Homo sapiens: one gene and its partners. The protein of the gene in region 2 binds, or shares a complex with, the protein of the main gene of each other region. Each region holds a gene or a part of one and is shown on either strand. Other genes may lie near its edges. A codon is read from its position in the direction of its gene.

Region 1 (8,322 bases), on a different chromosome or scaffold from region 2:
GCCAAGGTCCCCCCAAAATACACAGATTGTTCCCAGTGACACTGAGTAACACTTCACATCTTCCCTAGTGCTATCTGCTACATGTTACAGGAAGCAAGGCAAGCTCACTTTAGGAATGGCTCAGTAATGCATGTGCCCTTGATTTGTACACTAACAACTGTCTTACTCTAAACACTGGAGAATAGGGCAAGGGACATGAGTTTCCACTTTTCTAACTCCATTAAGGAACAGGGGTGTACTTGTTTGCTGTTAAGAGACTTTATTGCCTAGTCCAGAGCCTGACACACAGAAAAAGCTGTTTGTTGAATAAATGAATAAATGTATTTGTTGAAAATAAATGCATCGGCCAGGCGCGGTGACTCACGCCTGTAATCCCAGCACTTTGGGAGGCCGAGGTGGGCGGATCACCTGAGGTCGGGAGTTCGAGACCAGCCTGACCAACATGGTGAAACCCCGTCTCTACTAAAAATACAAAATCAGCCAGGCATGGTGGCGCATGCCTGTAATCCCAGCTACTCAGGAGGCTGAGGCAGGAGAAGCGCTTGAACCCAGGAGGCGGAGGTTGCGGTGAGCCGAGATCGTGCCATTGCACTCCAGCCTGGGCAACAAGAGTGAACTCCGTCTCAAAATAAAATAAAATAAAATATATAAATGCATAATCTCTCATAACCTCTCTTAACTGGTTGTGAATTCCTTACGTTTCACATTTTCTGACATACCTTTGGAATACTTAGGGGAAAACATCTTACCTCTCACAGAAACTAAGGGCCTAAAAATGGCTCTTCTACACCCATCAAAAGACTAAGAATCTAAAAGACATGCCCCCCTCTACCCTCTAAAAATGACTCTTTGTCCTAAGAATATGAATAAATCTCCATCTGCCAGACTGCACTAAATACAGCTTTTATATGCATTACAAAAACACCTGTATAAAAAAGCTGCTACAAAACGAGGTTTTTGGAGCCCTAAAGCACAAAACCAACAGAATCAAAACCAAACAAGAACAAGGAAAGACTTTTAAAACTGACAGTATTTGCAAAATGTAAAAATTCAATAGGTCTTTGGCCAGCGGTTTACACAGCTAAACCGAGTTTTTCCATTGACATATATTCCCCCAAATGTGAAGTAAAGATTATAGCAACATGATTCTAATATTTACAATGTGAAAATGAAAAGGGGACAACAACCTCTGGCCATCTTGAAGTAGAATAGAAACAACCTTTGTTCCTACTAAAGTTCTGTTGAAATACCAAAACCATCCCCAATATTCCTACACAAGAGTTAAAACACATACCAAGCCTGATAAGACACAAACAACAGGAAATTACCCTGCACAGTTTCTTAAAAGACTATTATTTCATGAAACTTACAGACTGTGTAGAGACATGACCACTTATGACTAAGTAAACGTAGGTTACAACCTTGAAAACCCAAACTTTTGTTGAACACCTACAATGCTTGTGGCCGCACTTTAGAAGGTGTGGCTAAGTATAAAAACCAAGCTCTAAGAGCAATTTCTTACTAAAACCCCAAAATGAACGTTTCCAATCACATTACATTAATTAAACCTGGCCAGTGAACAGCCTTGAACTCAATTAAATCCAGCAGAGTTTAATATTTATAGTAAAAGTGGGCACACTCTTTAGAAATGCCGAAAGATGTGAACTATTTATATTTACTACGACAGCTAAGTTTACGGCAACGGCTAAGGAACTTTAAAAATAAAAGTATTACTTTTGAATTTAATATAAACGTTTGCTAAATGACCTTCTGGCAGAGGAAATTCTTTAAATATCTTGTATGGGTTTTCCGAAGGCAAATTTTTTAAATACCCTCAAACTATGGTACATTTATGAAGCCCATTTTAAATTACTTCTCCCATCTCTGCTTCATCTGCTTCACTAATTCATGTATTAAAACTGTTGAAACTCCATTTAACTATTTGACTAACTTCTCTGTAAGATGGAAACTTTTTAAAGGGTGTTAAAGTAGAATAGCAAATTTTCAGCATAATAAGAGCAAATTTATTACTAGGCTCAAGGAAAACATCCTATCAGCGATTCATTCATACGAAACTATCAGGTTCAATTCATATGAAGTCAGAAGAGAGAAAAAGAATTTTGGAAATTAAATCACATTTCAAAGACCATTTCTAAAAAGATGTAATTATTCCAAGTTATTTATTTATTAACAATTATTTTACACATGTCGTTTTAAAAGTTTCACAAACCCAAATTTAAGATAGTCCAAATTGCAACAAACAAGACATGACTTTGATGGAAAATGCTGCTTGCAAATTCGTTTTACCTGGAAATTTCTTTTTTAAAGGTATGGTTGACAACACACTGGTGGTATTTTGCTTTTAAAGGGTCAAGAGAAAGGAATAACAAAACCAACCCAGGCATTCTTTTTCTGTTTAGGATCAAAAGGACATTTTAAGGATAAGTAAAAGACAAAAGTACCTGACCCAAAGACAATATCCCCCTCCAAGAGAACAAAGTAAGTTGCAATTTTAAAAACCAAGTTTGAAATACGAGAAATCACTTCGAGGGCTTTCCAAAGGCGTGTGATAAAAACTAATAGGCTCCACCCGCAGAACAACTTTCACAAGTGAGTGAAGGATGATCACAGAGTTATCAGCTGTGTGCGTGTTTGTGAGTACACACAAGCCATGGAAAACCCGAGACTACCACTGTTAACAAAGGTTACGAGACCAAAAAAAAAAAGTGGAGGCAAAGTATTACGCGTCCCTAACAAGGCTTCCCCACAACTCCTGAAACAAGAGCTCTGGCCCTTCGGCTTTAAAAATCAGAACCACAAACTATGGAGTGTGAGAGCAGCGAGGGGAAGGGACGCAGGCAGCCCCCGCCCCCGTCAGCCTGGGCGGCAGCGCAGTGCAACCGAGCCCCGTCCCTTCCCGGCTCTCCGGCCCCGAACCCGCACGCCCGGGCCGGCGCACCCACAGCCCCCGAACTCACCACACCCCAGCCCCCACCCGCAGCGGCCATGTGACACGGCCCATCGCCCCGGCCGCGGACGCACGCAAACACTTCCCTAGCTGGAGGCCCGCGGGCGCCCAGGCTTTACCTGCAAGGTGGCGCCAGGTCCCGCCCCGTCAGATCCGGGGGGTCCGGGACCTTTTGTTCCTTCCTCTTCCGATGGGATGGAGGGGGCTGGGAGGGGAAGAGGGGAATGGGCGATTGGAGGCGGAACTGAAAACACTCCCGGCCGCCGTCTTCCCGCCCCGCCCCCAGGCCCGGGCCCGGCCGGCGGCCCGGGCGCGCGGGAGGGTAGGGGAAGAGAGGGGAGGGGAGGGGAGGAGAGGGAAGGGGAGGGGAGGGAGCCTGGCCGCCGCCCGCGGGGAAGGAGGGGGTGAGGACGCGCGCGCCCGCGCTGCCCCTCCTCCCCTCAGGCGCGCGCCCGCAGCCCTACCGGCCGCCCGCACGGCCGCGCCCTCCCCCGCCAGCCCACCTCCGCTTCCGCCCTCCGCCCTCGGCCGCCGGCCGCCGCGGCGCCACGCACCCACCTCCCGGCGGCTGGCGGGCTGCTGGCTGGCGAGCTGCTTCTCCGCCGCCGCGGCCGCGCGGGTAGACCCGCCTGCCACCCTGGGCCGCGGGCCCCGCCGATTCGCCGGCGCAGCCCCGGGGCTGGCACCCTGCCGCCCGCTGATTGGCGCCTCCAGCCGCCCGTTAGGGCGCGAGGCACGCCGGCCGAAAGCCGCGCGGGGCGGGTATGGAAGACGGAGGGAGCGGAGGAGGAAAGGAACGAGGCCGAGCACCGCGGGAAGGGCCGGGGGGCGAGCGGGGCGCGGGGAGTCGCCGGCCACCGCCTCCCCACCTCCCTTTGCCTACGGCCCGCCCCGCCTCCCGGCCGGACCGGCGGCGCCCGCAGCCAATCAGCACGAGGGAAGCTCGGGGTGTGAGCCGCGCATCGGGGGCCTCGAATCGGAAGGGAGACGTCGCTCGCTGATTGGTCCCGCCTCCCCAGTCTAGCGTGAGGCGAGGCGGGGCGCGGCCGGGCGGGGCGGGACGCCCGCGGTTTCGCTTGAGTTGGGCGCCGGCGCGCTCCCACCGGGGCTCACGGGCGGAGAGGGAGAGGCCCGCGCCTTGCCGCGCATTAAGACGATTCCCGGTGACCGCCCGATCCCTCGCCAGCGTCGTGGGTGGGGCCTGTAGGGGCCTGCCGCCTCGTCCACCGTCCGTCGTGAGGCCGGCAGCGGACACGTGCTCATCCCACGGGGAGGCCCCGCGCAGCGCGGAGGACGCGCCTGAGAGAGAAAAGGGGTTCGGGAGAAGCCCGAGGACCCGGCCCGTGACTGGGCGCGCCCTATGCAAATGAGCGGGCGGGGCCCTCGTGTTGCTGAACGAGGGCGGGTTCGCGATGTAAATAAGCCCAGAGGTGGGGTCTTTGGAGAGCACTTAGGGCCCGGGTAGGGGATGCCAGGTATAAGTGTTTAACCTAAATTTTGGTTCCGTCTTCAGTAAAAATGATATCAATAATCCATGTCCCGAAGGGTCTTTGTGAAGTCTAAAAGAAACATCTGTCACGATGTCCCTTAATGGCTGGGATATCTTCCCTTCCCCTTTTCTCCACTGTTGCGACGATTAGGCCCCAACTTGCACATCTGCCCTACAGGAGGCAGCAAGGCCCTAAACTTACGGCTGCCCAGAACATAACTGCACCCAGGGAAAACCTTGTTGCGGTTACCCTTAGGAACACCCAAGCCTCTGCTGACAAAATATTGAGCCCAACTAATCACATCAGGTGTTTACTATGCACCCACTGTGACACAGGCAGGGAGTACCGTAGAACTAAAGTTGAAAAGAAACTTAGGTTTCACACAGGTGCCAGAGACAAGACTAGAACACAGTTTTTTTTTGGCTGCCTGTCCAGTAATTCATTCTCATGTGTGGCTTAGTTTATAGATTTAATTGGGGACTTCAAATAAGCGGGAAAGAAGCACTAGCAATACAAATCGGTAATCAGGAAGTACCAAATGAGCACTCCAAACAGTAAGAGTTTTTGAAGTATACGCTTTCTTCTGAGAAATGAACGTGTCCCAGAGGAGGGTGCCTTCAGATGGACCTTAAGAGAGATGTGGCCATCCCCTGAGTCATACAAGTTTTCCAGATGTCCTTTCAAAATCTCTGTCCTTTCCACCGTCTCTGTCCTCACACATAGAGGAACTTTTCTCACGGGAAGGTTGCGATGAAGAGCATAAACCCAGGAGTCAGGCACGTTGTAGCTTTGAGTACGACTCTGTTCCAGATCTGTAATCTTTGGCAAATGGAACTCACCTGCAACGATACCTACTTAAATATAGTTGTGTGATGATTAAATAATAAATATGAAAGTAAATAACATAGGGCTTTGAAGTTCAAGGAAAGTCAGTGATCATTAACTTCTCTTCTGTTGCGTGCGAACATTTATGCTGAGACGAACCTACTCAGCAGAAATTCTTCCTCCAAAAATTCCCTTCCAGGGTGGTTTCTTCCATTGTTAGTTTAGAGGCAGCTCTACTAACCCCTTAATAAAAATAAAAAAGTTTGTGAAGGACACCCAGGAAGCCATTTGGTGGAGCTGTCCCACCTCCTCTGCCTTGTTTCCTCTTTCCAGAGCCACTAGGGAGGACGGTCCAGGGCAAAGGCTGTTCAACTTACAAGTAGGAAGGCTGTTTCTTGTTTTTGGTCTGTCTTCCTGCTAATACAAGTCAACAGTTGTAATATGAAGTAGCATATTAAAAGCTACCCTGGTCACACAAGTATTTTCTCCTGTGTGAACAGGGTGTGGATTTGGGTGTCCACCTGAGTAGTAGAAATAGGAACCAAAGCAGGCCTGGCTGGGATTCCAGAATGTGCTCCTAGTATGGAAGTTAGGTACTTTGAGGTTACATTAATTAAGTGGGTAGTACGCCTGAGGTCTAAGTTAGACCATTTCTCCAAAGTCTCAGACTTTGGGTCCATAACTCTTCCATTTAGGAAGCCTTCCAGGATCTACAATTGAGGAAGAGGGAGAAGGGACAATCTGGCTACCAATGCAGTCCCCAAGGGGCTTAGAAATGGGAGCATGCCTACTGTCCCCTCTGCTAGAAATGCATCTAAACCAAAGTGGGTCAAGACAGAAACTGAAGGCACATAGAGCAGGGATTGCTATGGCAACAAACAGCTTGGAAATCCACTAGGGTACCTCAAGATCTATCAGTAGGTCCCTATTGTATAAATTAGATTGAATGAGTCTTATTTTTATATGGATAGAGACCAAGTTTAACCCTTCATTAAACATGACACTGCAAAATCAATTACATCCAAATCAATTCAGAATCCAATTCAAAAGTAGTTAAGTGCACTGGAAAGACACGAAAGAAAAATGATAATGGTGGTTGCTTCTGGAAAGAGCCTGAGGGTCATAAGTGGAAAATTTAAATTTCATCATTATTTCTTCTGTAGTTTGATTTTTTTGAAAAAGCTCACTGCCTTGGTTCAGACTTCATTGTCTTTCATTGGAAGTACTGCTTTAGCTCCTCAGCTGGTCTTCTTGCCTCCACTCTTGCTGCCTTCCAATTCATCCTCCTTCCTGCTGCCAGAATTTTTTTTAATAGCATATTTTCTAAATGTAAATCTGATATCACTACCTTGATTGATAGTTTCCTTCTTCCAGTTTTTTTTTCCCCAGGGTAAAATCAAGACTGTTTAGCATAACCTAAAAGATCCTTAATGATCCATCCCAGGCCAGTCTCTGTAGTGTCACATCTCAACACTCCCCACCTTGCTCCCTTTTCCCCAGCCAGAATGAACTCCTGACAGTTTCCCTAATCACCATGTTCTCTCGTTCCCCAGTGCCTATGCTGTGCTCTTTGTTCTGCTAGAAAGCACTTGCCCTATGGTGCCTGACCAACCTCTGCTCATCCTTGGAAGCTCTGTATAGAGCTTCAGTACCCTCATTTATTCATTGAACTCTCTATCCATACATACAAAGACACACACACACACACACCACACACACACAGTCATGATCTTTCAAAAAACAACTCATATTCTCCCCTTCTGGTAAATCTTTAAAGCCCTTTCTGGCTTCCCCAGCCCAAAGCTATACCATTCACATATGAATTTTCTCTCTTATACTTACGATGATATACATACCATTCATTTAGTCTTGAGCAGTTTTTTTTTCCAGCTTCTCCTGTGTATATATATTGTCTCCCCATCTAGATTGTAAGTTCCTGAAGGACAAGGACAACTTATTTTCACTTGTCTTCCCCTACCCTTACCAAAATACTAAGTAATTGAAGAAAGATGAAATACAGCATTTGTATAAAAGAAAAACATGTCACAGATCTGCAAACATTCTACACAGCTTTGCGCCCATTCTTCCGGTTTATAGTGGCCCTCCATACAACTGTTGGGTCTCTTTTCAACATCATTTGCTCATCCTAGTGGGATTAAATTGCAGTGAGCATTACTACATCTTAAGGAAAGATCCAGTTATTTGCAACTGAGAGGACCCTGATTAAATGAGATAAGTAAAAATTTTAAAGAACAAATGCATGGGCTTACTTTTATTGTAAATAATAAGGAAGAAATCCAACACCAGCTAGATATTTATATTGATACAATGAAATTTCAGGTTCCAAATGAATTTATGTTGCAGATTTGAACATATGCGCCCCCCCCAACACACAATCCTTATTCATGTTAGTTTTTGCTAAAAAGAAATAGTATTTCACATCTGATAGGAAATGCAGGAGACAGGAATAAGGCATATATGAGAAAAAAACTTCAAATGTAACAAGTGTTCATCAGGTGTCTGTCATGCACCTACCACAGAAGCATTGGTTGATCATAGTGGAAAATTCTCACTCTTTGGCCAAAGTCACTCAAAAAAAATAAGACAGGATTTTTTATAATTAAAGAGAGAAAGAGATTAAAAGAGAAGTTGGCTCGGATAAAGACAAAAATATATGGCAAAACAAATTATATTTCTCATCATTCTCCAGGCATCTTACTATTATATTTCTTATCTCTACACTTAAATGGATAAATAATGATTAGATGAATAGATCATTGGATAACTCAGTGACTGTTCAAATATTATTTGGAAAATTACAATACAATTCCAATGCAATGAGCTCTCCCATAAAGGCATTTAAATATCTGAGATGTACATATTTTGAGAAAAGAATAACAAAGGCCAGTGTCTAAACCCTGAAAGAACAATATACAAATTGTTTGAAGTTCTGTTGTGAGGGGAGATTATTTGGTAGTCACATGCCAACAATTGGGCCTTATGCTTTCATTATAATTGTCTGTGGGTGACAATATTGAC
Region 2 (7,520 bases):
CTTTTGCAGAGATGGGGTCGCACTTTATTGTTCAGGCTGGCCTCAAACCCCTGGGCTGCAGCAATCCTCTTGCCTCAGCCTCGCAAGTAGCTGGAATGATTTTTTTTTTTAAAACGCTTTCTCTTGAACCTGGGAGGTAGAAAGGTACAGTGAGCTGAGATCGTTGCCACTGCACTCCAGCGTGGGCAACAAGAGCGAAACTCCATTTCAAACAAACAAACAAACAAACAAACAAACAAAAAAACGCTTTCTCTTGAAACTGGGAGGTAGAAGGTACAGTGAGCTGAGATCGTTGCCACTGCACTCCAGCGTGGGCAACAAGAGCGAAACTCCATTTCAAACAAACAAACAAACAAACAAACAAACAAACAAAAACGCTTTCTTCCTGAGTTCCTGCTCTGTGAGGCTGACCTTGAGGGGTTTGGTCCTGTGTGTCTTGTTAGCTCAGCCTGTACCTGACCCCGCGACAATGACATCCTCCGACTCCCACCTCGCAGACCTTGGTTTAAGCCTCTTGTCCTGCCTGAAACTCATCAGCTATCCTCTGGTCTCCCCAAGAAGCCTCCCCTAATCCCCCACTGTGTTAGGTGCCTCCCCCTGGGTGCTGCATTTACTACCGTCCCATTGGTGTGTTGCTTGCCCGCCTCACAGTGCAGGAATGGAGGCTGCTGGGTTGGCCTTCTTCATTGCTGCACCCTCAGAACCCAGCACTGTGCACAAAACAGGTGTTCACGAATGTTCAAGAAGTTAATGAATAAATGAGACAGAAATAGGCCATGGGGAAGGAGGGAGACAGGGATCTACCACGGGGCTCGAAGCAGAAATGCTGGAATCTCATGCCCTATCTGCCTGAAACTCAGGCTGCGACCCTAAGGCCAGACTTCCTGGGCCTCCTCCAAGACAATGTGTCAGCCTTGCCCGACGGCGCCAAAACCTGTGAAATTTGATGGGGACTGTCGGGTGCTGGAGCCCCATCCTGATTCGATGTGGCTCCAGCTTAGAACCACACAGACACAGGGTGGCCTCTCCAGGAGCTCCCAGTCTGGAGCAGGGGCCTCCACCTGCTTCAAGGTGTTCAGGACCCCCTGAAATAGTATGCAAAACAGAATGGCACCTATCTGTGCTGGCAGACCCCAGCCAGCCTGCTCACAGTGTATCCCCAAGGTCCAGGAGGACATGTTATGGGTGCTGACTCCAGACTCCATCAGGTCCAGATCCTACCTCTGCTGCTCCTGAACAATGAGAGTCTGGCAGGTGACTTTACCTCTTGGAGCCTCACTCAACTGGCCTGTAAAATGGGGTAACCGCTGCTCCCACGTTGGAGCCTGTTCCAAGGAGTGAATCAGTGACCGCTTAAGCAGTGGCTGTTGCAGAGCAGGCCCCTGACAGATCCAAGCTGCCCATCCGTTATGGACTCAATGTTTGTGTCACCCCAAATTCATGTGTTAAAGCCCTAACCTCCAGTGTGGCTGCATCTGGAGATGGGGACTTTGGGGAAGTAACTAGGGTTAAATGAGGTCATAAGGGTGGGGCCCTGATCCAACAGGATTAGCGCCCCTTTTTTTTTTGAGGCAGAATCTGGCTCTGTCACCCAGGCTGGAGTGCAGTGGTACAATCTCGGCTCACTGTGACCTCTGCCTCCCAGGTTCCAGCGATCCTCCTGCCTCAGCCTCCTGAGTAGCTGGGATCACAGGTGTGCGCCACTACATCTGGCTTTTTTTTTAGTATTTTTAGTAGAGATGGAGTTTTACCATGTTGGCCAGGCTGGTCTTGAATTCCTGACCTCAGGTGATCCACCCACCTCAGTCTCCCAAAGTGCTGGGATTACAGGCATGAGCCACTGCGCCTGGCCAGGATTAGTGTCCTTATAAGAGACACCAGAGAGCTCGTGCTCCTTCACTCCGTGCACATGCGCCTGGGGAATGCCATGTGAGTGCACAGTGAGAGGGCAGCCGTCTACAAGCCAGGAAGTGGGTTCTCGCCAGGAACAGAATCTGAGGGAACCTGGATTGTGGACTTCTGGCCTCCAGAACTGTGGAAAGTGATGACTGTTGTTTAAGCCACACTGTCTGTGATATTTTGTTACAACAGTCCAAGCTAATGCACATCAGTGACCTAGGTGGGAGTGAGGGAACAAATGGGGTAGTCCTTGACCCCAAAAATGTTTCAAGACGTGCTGTCTCCTCTGCCTTGCCAGATCATTACGCTGCTTCCAGCATACTTCCCCCAGGCTGCCCAGGCACCAGAGGGGAAGGGGCCTGGTCGGGGAAAGAGGTGACAGGGTCAGATCTGAGAAGACCAAGATCCAGAAGGAGGGGCTAGAGGCTGGCCCAAGGCCAGCAGGCTGGAAGGGCGCCAGTGACCTTGAGGACCCCAGGACAAAGGGGCTGACCTGGATGCTGGGATGGGTATGTGAGTAGGACAGCTGCTCATAGTCTCAGCCTTGCTGGGACCCTCCAGGCCCTGGGCATGTGAGGGGTGGCTGTCAACAGATCTGGGTGGAGAGCGGGCAGGGAGGGCTTCTCCATGGCCCATCCTCCTTAGACAAGGACACTGGCAATGACTCCCTTGGATCTCTGACAGCCTCTGGCTGTGGCCCAGCAGCTGCAGAGGAGCCAATGCTGGGAAAAGGAGCCTCAGCAGAAAATGTGGAGGTCCCGGCTCTCTCTGCAGGCAGCCTGTCCCTTCGGGGCAAGGGCGGAGCACCAGATCTAAATGGGCACTGATGAGATTTAGCCCGGCTGCCAGCTGGGGAGTGAGCTGCCCAAATCATGGTCTCCTGATCACCCGGCATGAACCCTCGAGGGGAGAACATCCACTTCATGGAAGAGAAAATGAGGCCCAGGTGCCCAATGCCTGCGCCGACACTGCACATGATGATCTGTTACCGAGTGTACCTCGGCCGGGGCCACCTCACTGCATCCTCCTATCGACCTCTGAGGAGATCTGCCCCAGCACCGTCTCAGGCAGGAGGATACCAGGAGAGGGAGGTCGTGTGCCAAGGTCATCATCTGTGTGCTGAGCCCACCAGGCCTCCTGTGGTCCTATCCGGAACTCTTTCTACGGGCTGTGGGGTGGCAGCAGGGGCTGCCCGTGAGCAGAGGCCTTGACTTGACCTCAGCTCCCCCATCGTCCACACCCCAATGACTGGGGCTGAGGCTCCACCGTGCAGAGCACGCCAGCCACTGAGCCCATAGCTCCTGGATCCTCATAGCCACCCTCTCCCCATTCTACAGATGAGGCAACTGAGGCTCAGGAAATGAAGACCACACAGCTGGCACTGAAATCCAGCCCTGTACGAGCCCAGGGTGGGCCACGCTGTTCTGCCCTGACCCTCCCCCAGACATCCCACCCTTGCCCACCTAATCCATCACCCAGTCCTCTCTATCCTGCCTCCTGAATCTCTCTCGGGTCTGCTCCCTCTCACTTCTTCTTCCACTTCCAGCCCCCAAGTTCAAGTCACACCGCCTCTTGCTCCAATTCCTCCCACAGCTTCCACCAGGTGGGCAGGCAAGGCTCCTGCTGACATTCCAGAATCTGCAGGTACCTACGGTGACGCCTCAGGGCCTGGCTACTTACCAGGTGCACCTGTCCAACCCAGAGATGGGCGAGACACCCTCGCCCACCACACCCAGACCCATGCCCTCCTCACTATCCCCACCGACCTCAGCCTTCTGCCAGCTCTCATCAGGATTGCTTGGAGCAGCTCTGTCCTGCGCCTGGCTGCTCTGCTGACCCCCAGGAGCCCACTTCATGCCGCTCCATCCCCAAATGCCTGCACCCTCCTGCTCACTCTTATAGGGTCCGGAAGCCTCAGAACAGAGACCACTAGAGCTGGGAGGACCTGAAGGGTCATCTTGCAATTCTCTCCTGGCTTCTCCCTCCACTTCTTCTTCTTGCTCTGGGGCAACCAGAACCCCTGAAGGTTCTGGGCCTTCCACTTCCCTGGCCCTTGACATTCTAGCTTCACAGATCTCTGCTGAAAGCAGAGCACTGTGGGTTCCTCTCCTGGTCCCACATGGCCACATATGTCCTGCTGCCTCCAGGAAAGAACCAAACCTCCTCACCTGACAAGGACCCTCCTCAACCTGGCTGGGACCTGCCCGTGAAGGGTCTCATCACCCCCTAGCTCCCTGCAAAGCCTTCCCCAGAGTTCTGGCTACATCCTAGTCCTAGGCCTTTACTTCTGCCCCGTCCTGTGCCAGGAATCCTTCTTGCTTCCTACTGGCTCATGAAACAAGGCTGTGAGGGCTGACTCTGGGCCAGGCTTTGTGTGGCAGGATGGGAATACAGGGGAAAGAGAGAGATCCAGTCCCTGCCCTCAGAGGTCAGGAGGCTGGCTCTTCAATCAGCCTTCAAGATTCTGTGCAAGAACTCGGCTTCTCTCTGCCATGCTTACATATAAGACTAACGGGTGGCACTTACTGTCCTAGATGCCATGTTGGGGGTGTGCATATGTAATAACATCCTACAGGCCAACTGGACCAAGTGATGAGAGAGTAAAACAACAGCCAATACTGACCGAGTGTACACTCTGTGCTGGGCCCTGTGCTACCACAACCAACAACAGCAATGACAGTGACCACTAACAATGACAGAACATTTACCGATGCCAGGAGCTGTTACTCCCGCTTTACTGTATTAGCCAGGAGTCCTCACAACTACCCTGTGAAGTGGGTCTTATTATTCTAATACTAATTTTATAAATGAAAAAGACTGACAGCTGGGGGCGGTGGTTCATGCTTGTCATCCCAACACTTCGGGAGGCTGAGGTGGAAGGATCACTTGAGGCCAGGAGTTTGAGACCATCCTAGGCAACATGGTGAAGTCCTGTCTCTACTAAAAATACAAAAATCAGCCAGGTGTGGTGTTATGAGCCTGCAGTCCCAGCTACTTGGGAGGCTGAGGTGGGAGGATCACCTGATCCCAAGGAGGTTGAGGCTGCAGTGAGCTATGAACACTGCACTCCAGCCTGGGTGACAGAGCAAGACCCTGTCTCAAAAGAAGAAGGAGAAAAAGATTGAAGCCCAGAGATGTTAAGTAACTTGCTCAAGAGCACATAGCCAGGACGTGGCAGAGCTGCATAGCAACCCAGGCTGTCTGGGCATGGTTGAGAGATGGGTTGTTTGGAGTAGGGACAGCCCAGGTTTGGGGACTCTGAGAAAGGCATCAGACACAACTTACTGCAAGAATGGAAAAGTGTTTTTTTTTGTTTTTGTTTTTGTTTTTTTGAGACGGAGTCTCGCTCTGTTGCCGAGGCTGGAGTGCAGTGGCACGATCTCAGCTCACTGCAAGCTCCACCTCCCGGGTTCATGCCATTCTCCTGCCTATCTCCCGAGTAGCTGGGACTACAGGTGCCCGCCACCATGCCAGACTAATTTTTTTGGATTTTCAGTAAAGACAGGGTTTCACCGTGTTAGCCAGGATGGTCTCGATCTCCTGACTTCGTGATCCACCCACCTTGGCCTCCCAAAGTGCTGGAATTACAGACGTGAGCCACCGCGCCCGGCCAAGAATGTAAATGTTTTATATTCCCGCTGTCAAAGATGGCAGCCACCAGCTAAAGTATGACCAGTGCAATTGAGAAACCAATTTTTGATATTATCTTATTTATTTTTGAGACAGGGTCTTGCTCTGTCACCCAGGCTGGAGTGCGGTAGTGTGATCTCGGCTCATTACAACCTCTGCCTCCTGGGCTCAAAGGATCCTCCCACCTCAGTCTTCTAAGTAGCTGACACTACAGGCGTGCACCACCATGTCCAGCTAATTTTTTTATTTTTTTAGAGACGGGGTTTTGCTATGTTGCCCAAGCTGGTCTCAAACTCCTGGGCTCAAGTGATCCTCCCGCACAGGGTGGGAGTGGCAGCCAAACTGGACAGCTTTAGACAGGGCTCTGCAAATGATGGCCTGCAGGCCAAATCCTCCCAGATTTTGTAAATAGTAAAGTTTTCTTGGCACACAGCCATGACCATGTGCTTGCTTACATATTAGTTATGAGTGCTATCCAGTTACAAAGCAGAGCTGATAGAGACTGCATGGCCCACAAAACCTAAAATATTTACCATCTGGCCTTTAAAGTTTGCCACCTTGGTGCCAGACTGCAGAGGAAACACAGAACAGAGCAGGGAATAGCTTCCTCCCTTAGGTCAGAATTAACTCACTATCTACTGGCACTCACTACCTCTTTTTTTTTTTTTTTTTTGAGATGGTGCCTCACTTTGCTGCCCAGGCTGGAGTGGAGTGGTGCGATCTCGGCTCACTGCAACCTCTGCCTCCCTGCCTCAGCCTCCCGAGTAGCTGGGATTACAGGCATGCGTCAACACATCTGGCTAATCTTTGTATTTTTAGTAGAGATGGAGTTTCACCATACTGCCCAGGCTAATCTTGAACTCCTGACCTCAGGTGATCTGCCCTCCAAGGCCTCCCAAAGTGCTGGGATTACAGGCGTGAGCCACCGCACCCTGCATGCACTCACTACCTTCCTGACTGCTCTCTCTGGATCCACCTATGTTTATGACTCAGGCCCCTAGTGGATGATATTACTATTGACAACACTTCCCACAGACTGAGGGCCTACTGTGCAAAATCCATTGCCTTATTCCCTTGAACCTTCACAATGGTCCTTAGAGGATGCCCATTTTACAGAGAAAGCTGAGTCTAGGGGAGGTGACACGAGTCCCCTCCCAAAGGTCACAGAGTTCACAGAGGCACAGCTACTACCTGAACCCATGTCTGCCAGCCCCCAGGCTGGGTCCTCTGCCCCTACCTGGCTCACCCTCAAATGCCAGATGGAAAAGAAAGAGAATGGCTGCTGTGAAGGTCAGGGTCAGGTCATGCACTGGCGTTTTTGTGTTGGCCAACACCACGCCTGGCAGCTGAGCAAGCTGGGGTGAAGGGTCTGATGTGACTTCTACAAAGGCTCACCTGGGAGAAGACCCCCTCCCAAGCCCCTGCCCTCGCCCTGCTCACCGTTGATCAGCTCCAGGGCCTCCTCCTTGGTCCGGGTGATCTTCTCCTGCCGCCAGGACGAGGGCCGCCGTGACTGGCTGTGCTTCACCAGCAGGTGCGAGCAGCGGACCCTGGCAGGCTCCCCCTGCCCGTTTTTGCCACCACTGCTGCTGTTGCCGCTGGGCCGCTCCCACTGGCTGGCGTTAGTGATGTGGTTGAAGTAGTACACTCGGCCTGGAGGGGAGGGCAGGCAGGAATTCAGCTAGGGTTGTGCTCCCAGGACACCCCTGGGCCCACAGCCAGAAGCCAGGGTGAGGGCCTGGCTTGCAGGGGGCGCCTTCATTCAACAAATCCATGGTGTATCCACCATGTGCCACAGGCTCTCCAGACGTGGGCCAATGTGGCAGGATACAGTCCCTGCCCTTAGAGAGCTAACATTCTAGGTGAGAGCAGACAGGTGCTAAACAAGCAAATGAAACACAGGATAGTATCAATCCCTGATAACTTCAAGGAGGAAAATAACCCAGAGTGATGGAACAGAGGAAGCTGGGGGACAGGGAGTGACTCAAACC
Region 3 (7,520 bases), on a different chromosome or scaffold from region 2:
ATCATAGCTCACTGTAGCCTTGAACTCCTGGGCTCAAGCGATCCTCCTGCTTCGGCCTCCCAAGTAGCTAGGGCTACAGACACATGCCATCATGCCCAGCTAATTTTTACAGTTTCCTTTTGTAGAGACAGGATCTTGTTTTGTTGCCCAGGCTAGTCTCAGACTCCTGGCTTCAAGTGATCCTCCCACAGTGCTGGGATTACAAGTGTGAGCCACCGAGCCTGGCCTCATTTATATATATATATGTGTATATATATATAATATATATAAAATATATTTAATATATATAATATATATAATATATATATAATATATAATATATATTATATATGTTTTTATATATATTATATATTATACATATTATATATATAAAAATATATATAATATATAATATATAATATATATTATAATATATAATATATATAATATATATAATATATTAGATATATAATATATACAATATATTATATATATAAATATATATAATATATAACATATATAATATATACATATATAATATATAATATATAATATATATAAATATATATAATATATAAATATATAATATATAAATATATAATATATAATATATAATATATATAAATATATAATATATAAATATATAATATATAATATATATAATATATAATATATATAAATATATAATATATAATATATAATATATAATATATAATATATATTATATATAAATATATAATATATATAAATATATAATATATAAATATATATAATATATAAATATATAAATATATAATATATAATATATATAATATATAATATATAAAATATATAATATATAATATATTTATATATTATATTATATAAATATATATATTATATTTTAATATATATTATATATATAAAAAAAATATATATAAAACCAAAGAGATTCCTTTTTTTTTTTTTTTTTGAGAAGAAGTCTAGCTCTGTCGCCCAGGCTAGAGTGCAGTGGTGCGATCTCGGCTCACTGCAACCTCCACCTCCCGGGTTCACGCCATTCCCCTGCCTCAGCCTCTCGAGTAGCTGGGACTACAGGCGCCCGCCACCACGCCCGGCTAATTTTTTGTATTTTTAGTAGAGACGGGGTTTCACAAAGCCAGGATGGTCTCAATCTCCTAACCTCATGATCTGCCCGCCTCGGCCTCCCAAAGTGCTGGGATTACAGGCGTGAGCCACCGCGCCCAGACTGCCTGATGTTGCCCTGATTAATTACCCAAGAAGTCTCTTTTTGGGGGACAGGCCATGGGAGGGGGATGAGGCAAGACAATAGTTTGGTGCCACTGTTCAATTAAGAACAACTGGAAACAGGTACCACTGAAATGACCTGCAAATCAATGGCAGAACTGGATCCGATCCAGGACAACTCTGTTGACACATGATTTAGAACGCTGGCTCCAATTCAGGAGGAGGAGCTGTCCTTTACGCTGGGGGAGGAGCACCGTCCCACGGTTCCATGAATTTGTCCTTCCCAGCACTTCGTTCTTGGCATTCTGTGGCGTCTGTAGAGCACATGACAAGCAATTACAGAGCCAGGGGTCTTCTAATATCCTTGCTATCCCAGGGAGGAGGACACAAGCATGAAAGTGCATCCCTGGACTTTTTGTGGTGAAACTGCAGACTTAGATCCCAAGATAACATCACCAGCCTTCTCAGTAAAACAGAAAACTGGGCCATAGGCTGGAAGGAAAACCAGCAGCTGGGACTAGAGATAATTATGTCCCTCTTCTCTTTGATGCCTGGATTTAGCAGTAGGGTGGACGGGGCCAAAGGAGAGGAATGAATGAAACATTATTATCAATTGCTTCAGATTTAATTCTCACTTGCTGATTTAAAACTGTTTTTAGTGTTGGACATTGATCTAAGACTCTTTCCTCAGGGGAGTTAATATAGCAAAGGGAATTTAAACTTATTTTCAGTCTGTTGAGGAGGATTTTACCCTCTTAAGTTGGGATTCTATGTGAATGACTTCAAAGTGCTGTGCTAGTCCTGGCAGACAGACAGAAGATGGGCGGGGAGAATGCCCACCTTTTACTAATTTATAAGTTTCCCCAGTAGGTGTTCTTCTGATACCCTGTAAGAATAAGACATGAAGGTCTGTAAACATGCAAGGCTGGGGTCCACACAGCCTGATCTGCAGTCAGGACTGCCTCTTATCACAGCCAAGCACTTACTAAAGGTCATCTGTGCCCATTCAAAATCTTGTATGTACACCAGACTTGCTATAATAATCACATATCCTAAATAAGGTGCAAGCTGGCCGGGCGCGGTGGCTCACACCTGTAATCCCAGCACTTTGGGAGGCCGAGGTGGGTGGATCACTTGGGTCAGAAGTTCGGGACCAGCCTGGCCAACATGGCGATACCCCATCCCTACAAAAATACAAAAATCAGCCGAGCATTATGGTGTGTACCTGTAGTCCCGGCTACGGCGGAGGCTGAGGCGGAATTGCTTGAACCCAGGAGGTGGAGGTCGCAGTGAGCCAAGATCGCGCCATTGCACTTAAGCCTGGGCGATAGAGCGAGACTCCGTCTCAAAAAAAGATTAAAAAATAAGGTGCAAGCTGATGGAGTAAAAGTGCTGAGGAATAAGCTCTTCAAATCATTCAATGATTTTAAGAAAATTTAGTTGAATGTTTTGGAAAGACTTCATAAAGGTGAGTAATATTTACTATCAAATGGGATGGTAAAGACCATGAAAAAAAAAAAAAAAAGTAAAATCCCTGAAGGATTCTGCATTCAGATGACTCCACAATGTAAACCCAAAATCCAAACTGAAATCGGAGGACCCAGACAGTGCATTATTAATGTGGCATAGGCAAAACAGACAAGAAATTTCAACTGGCTGATCCAGACACCAAGAGAAGACCTGAGCCCTGTGTCAAAAGATGGGTGAACAAATTCACATTTATATAGTTTCGGTTAAAGTAAAATCTTGGAAATCTATGTGTATCATTTAAATGATTTTCTGATATAATGACTTTTTAAAACTGATATATTGTTACTTAGTCTTGATTTAAGCGATAAGAAGGCTTCTTAGGCCGAATTTATTAATTCATAAATGACTATACTTATTGGATACATGGAATTCCTAAGATTCAGTACACCACAAGTTTGCTTTATTTAATCCTTTTCTACTCTACTCTCAACCAACCACCCTGAAATCTGTTTGCCAGTTTACCAATGTCAGCACTCTGTTGAATTACTTCATTTGTAAAATCTCTTCTTTACCTCCTTCGCCTTCCCTGACTGCCATTACTTTCTCGATCAGCCCTCACTTTTTATTCAACGAGTAAACTGGAAAGATCTCTGAACCCGATGTACTAAGCCAGGTCACCCTGCCCGGGATGGCTGGCGGGAAGGCAGGTCAGTTTGGGCTGGTGGAGAGCATGCAGTTTATTCCTGGCATGGAGTGGATTTCAGGAAGAAGATGAGGCAGGGACAGCAGATGACAAATCTCCGCTTGCCTGTGGCAAGAGTTCTGTGTGTACATTTAAACATGGGTGTGTGCAATTTTCAGAGGATCCACTTCTGCCCAGTTTGGTGCAGGGGAGCTGGGTAGTTGCCGACTTTTCCTATCTTGATCCCTACTCAGTGTAACAATTTATCTGTACAACTGATTCCATCACCAGGATCTTTAGACCCCTCTGGTCATTCAGCCAATCACAAGCACTCATCCACAGGACACCGCCGATGATGCCATTTACTGAGCAGTTACTATGTGCTTGGCCCTAGTGAGTACCGGGTTAGCTTGTGTGAACCCCATGGCAACCCGTGAGACAGGTACCATCATACTCCAAGTTGTGGATGACAAAAAACTCTCCAAGCAGCTAAACAATATGGCTTAGGTCTCACAGTGAGCAGGGAGCTGGGATTTGTGCCCAGGAGGCCCGATCAGAGCCTACCTCCTTAACCATTAGGCCAAACTGCCTCCACATGCAGAACACTGCCCTGCACTGGGGACCTGGGGGAGGGTAACAGTGTCTGCCCTTGAGCTGCTCCCAAACCTTCCTTGAATAGCCTTGGCACAAAATGCATTTCTTGGGGACTCGCTGACATGGTGTTTGGATTTCTATCGGGTCCCTGATTGGGCTCAGCATGGAGCCTGATGAAATATGAAAAAAGCAAAGAAAATTAAGGGACTATACATGGAAGTTGTTCGAGTTTGTATTTTGCTGAAGCCCATTCTATCTGCATGCTTACAGAAAGTTTCCTAACTGGAGAACCCAGAAAGCTCAAAACCTGTCTCAAATTCCTCCTCACACTCAGTTGGGAGCCATCTGGGCAGGCAGGGAACCTGGCAGAGGTGGCAGGAGCATGGCACCTGGAGACAGGAAAGGAATTCTTGGACAGCAAACTCTTTGGCAAGGCAACAGGGGCGAGACAGAGGATTCTCAGGTAGCCCCAAGGTACCACAGTATAATGGAATACTTATTGCAAAGCCTGGGCCCCAGGAAGTGAGAAAAGCCTCCCAGGCCCATCTTTGCCAAAAGATTCTTACAAGAGGACTTGCCTATGCCCACCCAACTCAACCCACACCCACAATCTCAGAGCAGGCCTCATCAGTGGGCGCCAACGCTTTCACCTTGCCGAGGTACAGAACCTAAGCTGGGGATCTGATGTCCCTAAACCTCAGAGACTTGACCTTGGCCACACTGAATCTACGTCTTGATCCCCCAGTCTTGATTTCCAGCCTTCCCTGGGTCAATCAAACCAGCTGCCCCGTCATATGGCAGAGCAGTCCAGAAACCCTGGATTGGGGGAAGAGGTTTAAGGACCTTAGGAAGAGATATTTGCTCTTTGTTTTATAAACAGAGCACCAATGTAGAGTGAAATGCCTTGCTCTCTGTGTCGGGGCCAGATAAGAAATTGAGAGCTTTAACTCCACATCTCCCTAACCTTATTCTGGGTCATGCTCCGATTACAGACTCTTGTAAAAATTCATTTGTGAGACAGTGGTTTTGGAATCAATATTCTACTGGGTCAATGTTATAGATCATATCTGGGTTCCCAGACTAGTCCACAATGGCCAAGTAAACCCACATGTGGCTGAGAGGGGAGGGAACTAGTGTCAGGCAACCAGCTCCACCACCCACTGGCTCTGTGACCTTTAGCAAGTTACTAACCCTCTCTGTGCTTCAGTTTCCCCATCACGGAGATAATAACAGCACCTGCTACATAGCGGAAGTGTTGTGAGGATTAAATGAGATAATCTTAGCAAGCACTTAGAATAGGGCCTCCTAAAAGACACTCAATGAATGTAATTAAGATAGCAGTGCCAGTGTCAACCCCAGCAGTGGTGACATTGGGACTGGGTCATATTTTGATGTAGGAGACTGTCCTGTGCCTTCCTTGTAGGATGTTTAACAGCATTCCTGGCCTCTACCCACAAGATGTCAGTAGCACCCTCCCCGAGTTGTGAAAACAAAAACATCTCTCTAGACATCTCAGTGGCCCCCAGTTGAGAACCATGGTTTTACAGGAAAACAGCTGAGAGTCCCTGCTGGAACATGAGGACTCCTCTCCCTGCTGCAGCCCAGCTGGTGAGGCTGGGGTCTTCTCTTCCCGTCACCTGCTGAGGTGCCCCCCAAACGCCAGCTCCATGTCACTAGTGGAAGCACCTAACTCCTGGGCATGGCAAGTTAGGAGTGGCCAGGGGGGTGTTTCTGGGAGTGTGAGGGGGCTTTGGGGGTCTCTGAACACGGTGATGAGGAAAGTGGTGGTGGAGGAAAGAGCAGAGTCAAACGCAGTTTCCCACCTGCTTCCCACTGTATTTCCCCATTTATCCTTCATGGATAAAATCCATTTGGTATGGACCGAATACCTCTTGTATGTCTAGCACTGTATTAGGCCCCTACGGCTGTTTTTATTTGTTTTTGAGTGATTCTTTTTCAAGGAGGGAGTAAGGAAGATGCTAAATAAATACATCAATAGAAGGCAAGGTCCAGTTGGAAAATTATCACATGTCCAATTGGAAAAATAACACGTGTTCGTACATATAGCCACAGAGCTACTGAAACCACACACATAAATGCTGAGGGAAAGTGGAATAAAACAGTTTCTTTAAATTTTCAACAAATGGACTGTAACAACAGATGTTAAAAAGGCAGAAGGAAAACCACAATCTTATCCCATCTCCAGGCTGGCACCGACCTCCAAGGGCATGAGGGTCAAAGGGCACGTTTAATAGAAAGGCCACTTTTTCCAACCGGAATAAATCTAACCTTTCCTCAATCAAAGCGATTCTAAGTTTTCTAACAATTTATGGGCAGTATCCATTTCTTTTGTTCCTGTCGGAGGAGCAATGCCTGATATTAGAAACCACTTAAAAGTCACGCCCTTCCAGCAGGAACAGTCATGGACTGTCACTCATCCAAAACCCAGCAAAGCCAACAAGCCCCTTCCCCAAATCGTCCAAAGGTGAACCCAAGAGCCAAGCCAGGTTATTGCTATATAAACATCTGTTAGAGAAGCAAACTTGGCCAAGGAATGTATGAGCTTCAAGAGTCACTCCGGACCTGCGTAGCAGGGGTGGGGGCAGGGGATACACTTATCTGTTTATCCATTAATTTGTTTACGTAGAGGGAGGATTTGGAGATGCTTATACAGTAAATATAAGCAGCTTATACAGTAATTATAATACAATGCTTATACAGTAAATACAATGCTTATACAGTAAATATAAGCAGCCATCACAAAACACAAAATGACACCCCAGAATCAACCGCGGTAGGAAAGACATTTCCCTGTCTCCTGTAGGATGGGTCAGTTAAGGGGCCGAGGGGGATCAGATAGAACTCAAATTGGTCCTGCTGAGCCTGGAGCCTGAGCACGCAGAGGGGTGAGCTAGGCAGTCGCTGTCGGAGCCCCCATCATCCCTTCCAGCCTGGACCATTCTGAGACGGAGGTTTGGAGTTACAGGTGTGTGAGCGCCAGAGGGTGAGAGGGGTCACTCGCTCGGAATGTAAGAGCTCCCGCCTGCTGGGAATGGGGAGGAGTCGTCGATGGCCCCAGGATCCGTGCCCAGACATTTCCAGAGGCGCACCGGCTGGTTCAGCACCCCACCGTCATCCGCGCAAAAGCTGCATCCCTCGAGGTCCTGGAGGGAAGCCATTTCCTTAAAGCGCGCGCAGAGCCAGGATAGAGTTTCCTACGAAGGACCGTCCCCCTGAGGTTCCTCCATTAACAGCGCCCCCGGCCTTGCCCACCGCAGCGGCCCCACCAAAGCGCCAACACATTTCAAAATGGAGCGAAATCGCAGAAGCGCGGAGTGCGCTTTGTTCCCAGCATTGGGCTAAATGCGCTCATCCCCACCGGGCTCCCTTTCCTCCAAAGGCAGGAGGTGACATCTCTGCTCGCGAGATGGCAATACGTAGCCGTGGCCGCGGGCTCCCCTTTTCCGGGGCCACCCCGAGACCCTCGCTCCATCTGGAAGGGGAACCCCGCGCCCAGCTCTGTCTGGGGGCGAGGGAGGAGAGACGATGCTTGAATCGATCCCTGAGC

Evidence for each region.
Region 1: the proteins of PIN1 (region 2) and SMAD2 are in contact, whole or in part, in an NMR structure (PDB 2LB3), measured with the Homo sapiens proteins. Residues at the interface, in NP_006212.1 of Homo sapiens: Glu12, Arg14, Met15, Ser16, Arg17, Ser18, Tyr23 (codon at 7,174), Phe25 (codon at 7,168), Trp34 (codon at 7,141); in NP_001003652.1 of Homo sapiens: Pro218, Glu219, Thr220, Pro221, Pro222, Gly224.
Region 3: the proteins of PIN1 (region 2) and MAPT are in contact, whole or in part, in an NMR structure (PDB 1I8H), measured with the Homo sapiens proteins. Residues at the interface, in NP_006212.1 of Homo sapiens: Arg17, Val22 (codon at 7,177), Ser32 (codon at 7,147), Gln33 (codon at 7,144), Trp34 (codon at 7,141); in NP_058519.3 of Homo sapiens: Val546, Arg547, Thr548, Pro549, Pro550, Lys551, Ser552, Pro553.

Annotation. Positions count from the first base shown.
Region 1 is NC_000018.10:47,927,274-47,935,595, forward strand, and holds the start of SMAD2 (mothers against decapentaplegic homolog 2), read right to left. Parts: upstream 3,387-8,322; 5' UTR 3,088-3,386; intron 1-3,087. UniProt on the Homo sapiens protein: Receptor-regulated SMAD (R-SMAD) that is an intracellular signal transducer and transcriptional modulator activated by TGF-beta (transforming growth factor) and activin type 1 receptor kinases.
Region 2 is NC_000019.10:9,838,098-9,845,617, reverse strand, and holds part of PIN1 (peptidyl-prolyl cis-trans isomerase NIMA-interacting 1), read right to left. Parts: intron 7,183-7,520; coding exon 6,970-7,182; intron 1-6,969. UniProt on the Homo sapiens protein: Peptidyl-prolyl cis/trans isomerase (PPIase) that binds to and isomerizes specific phosphorylated Ser/Thr-Pro (pSer/Thr-Pro) motifs.
Region 3 is NC_000017.11:45,897,126-45,904,645, reverse strand, and holds part of MAPT (microtubule-associated protein tau), read right to left. Parts: exon of another isoform or gene 5,848-7,520; intron 1-5,847. UniProt on the Homo sapiens protein: Promotes microtubule assembly and stability, and might be involved in the establishment and maintenance of neuronal polarity.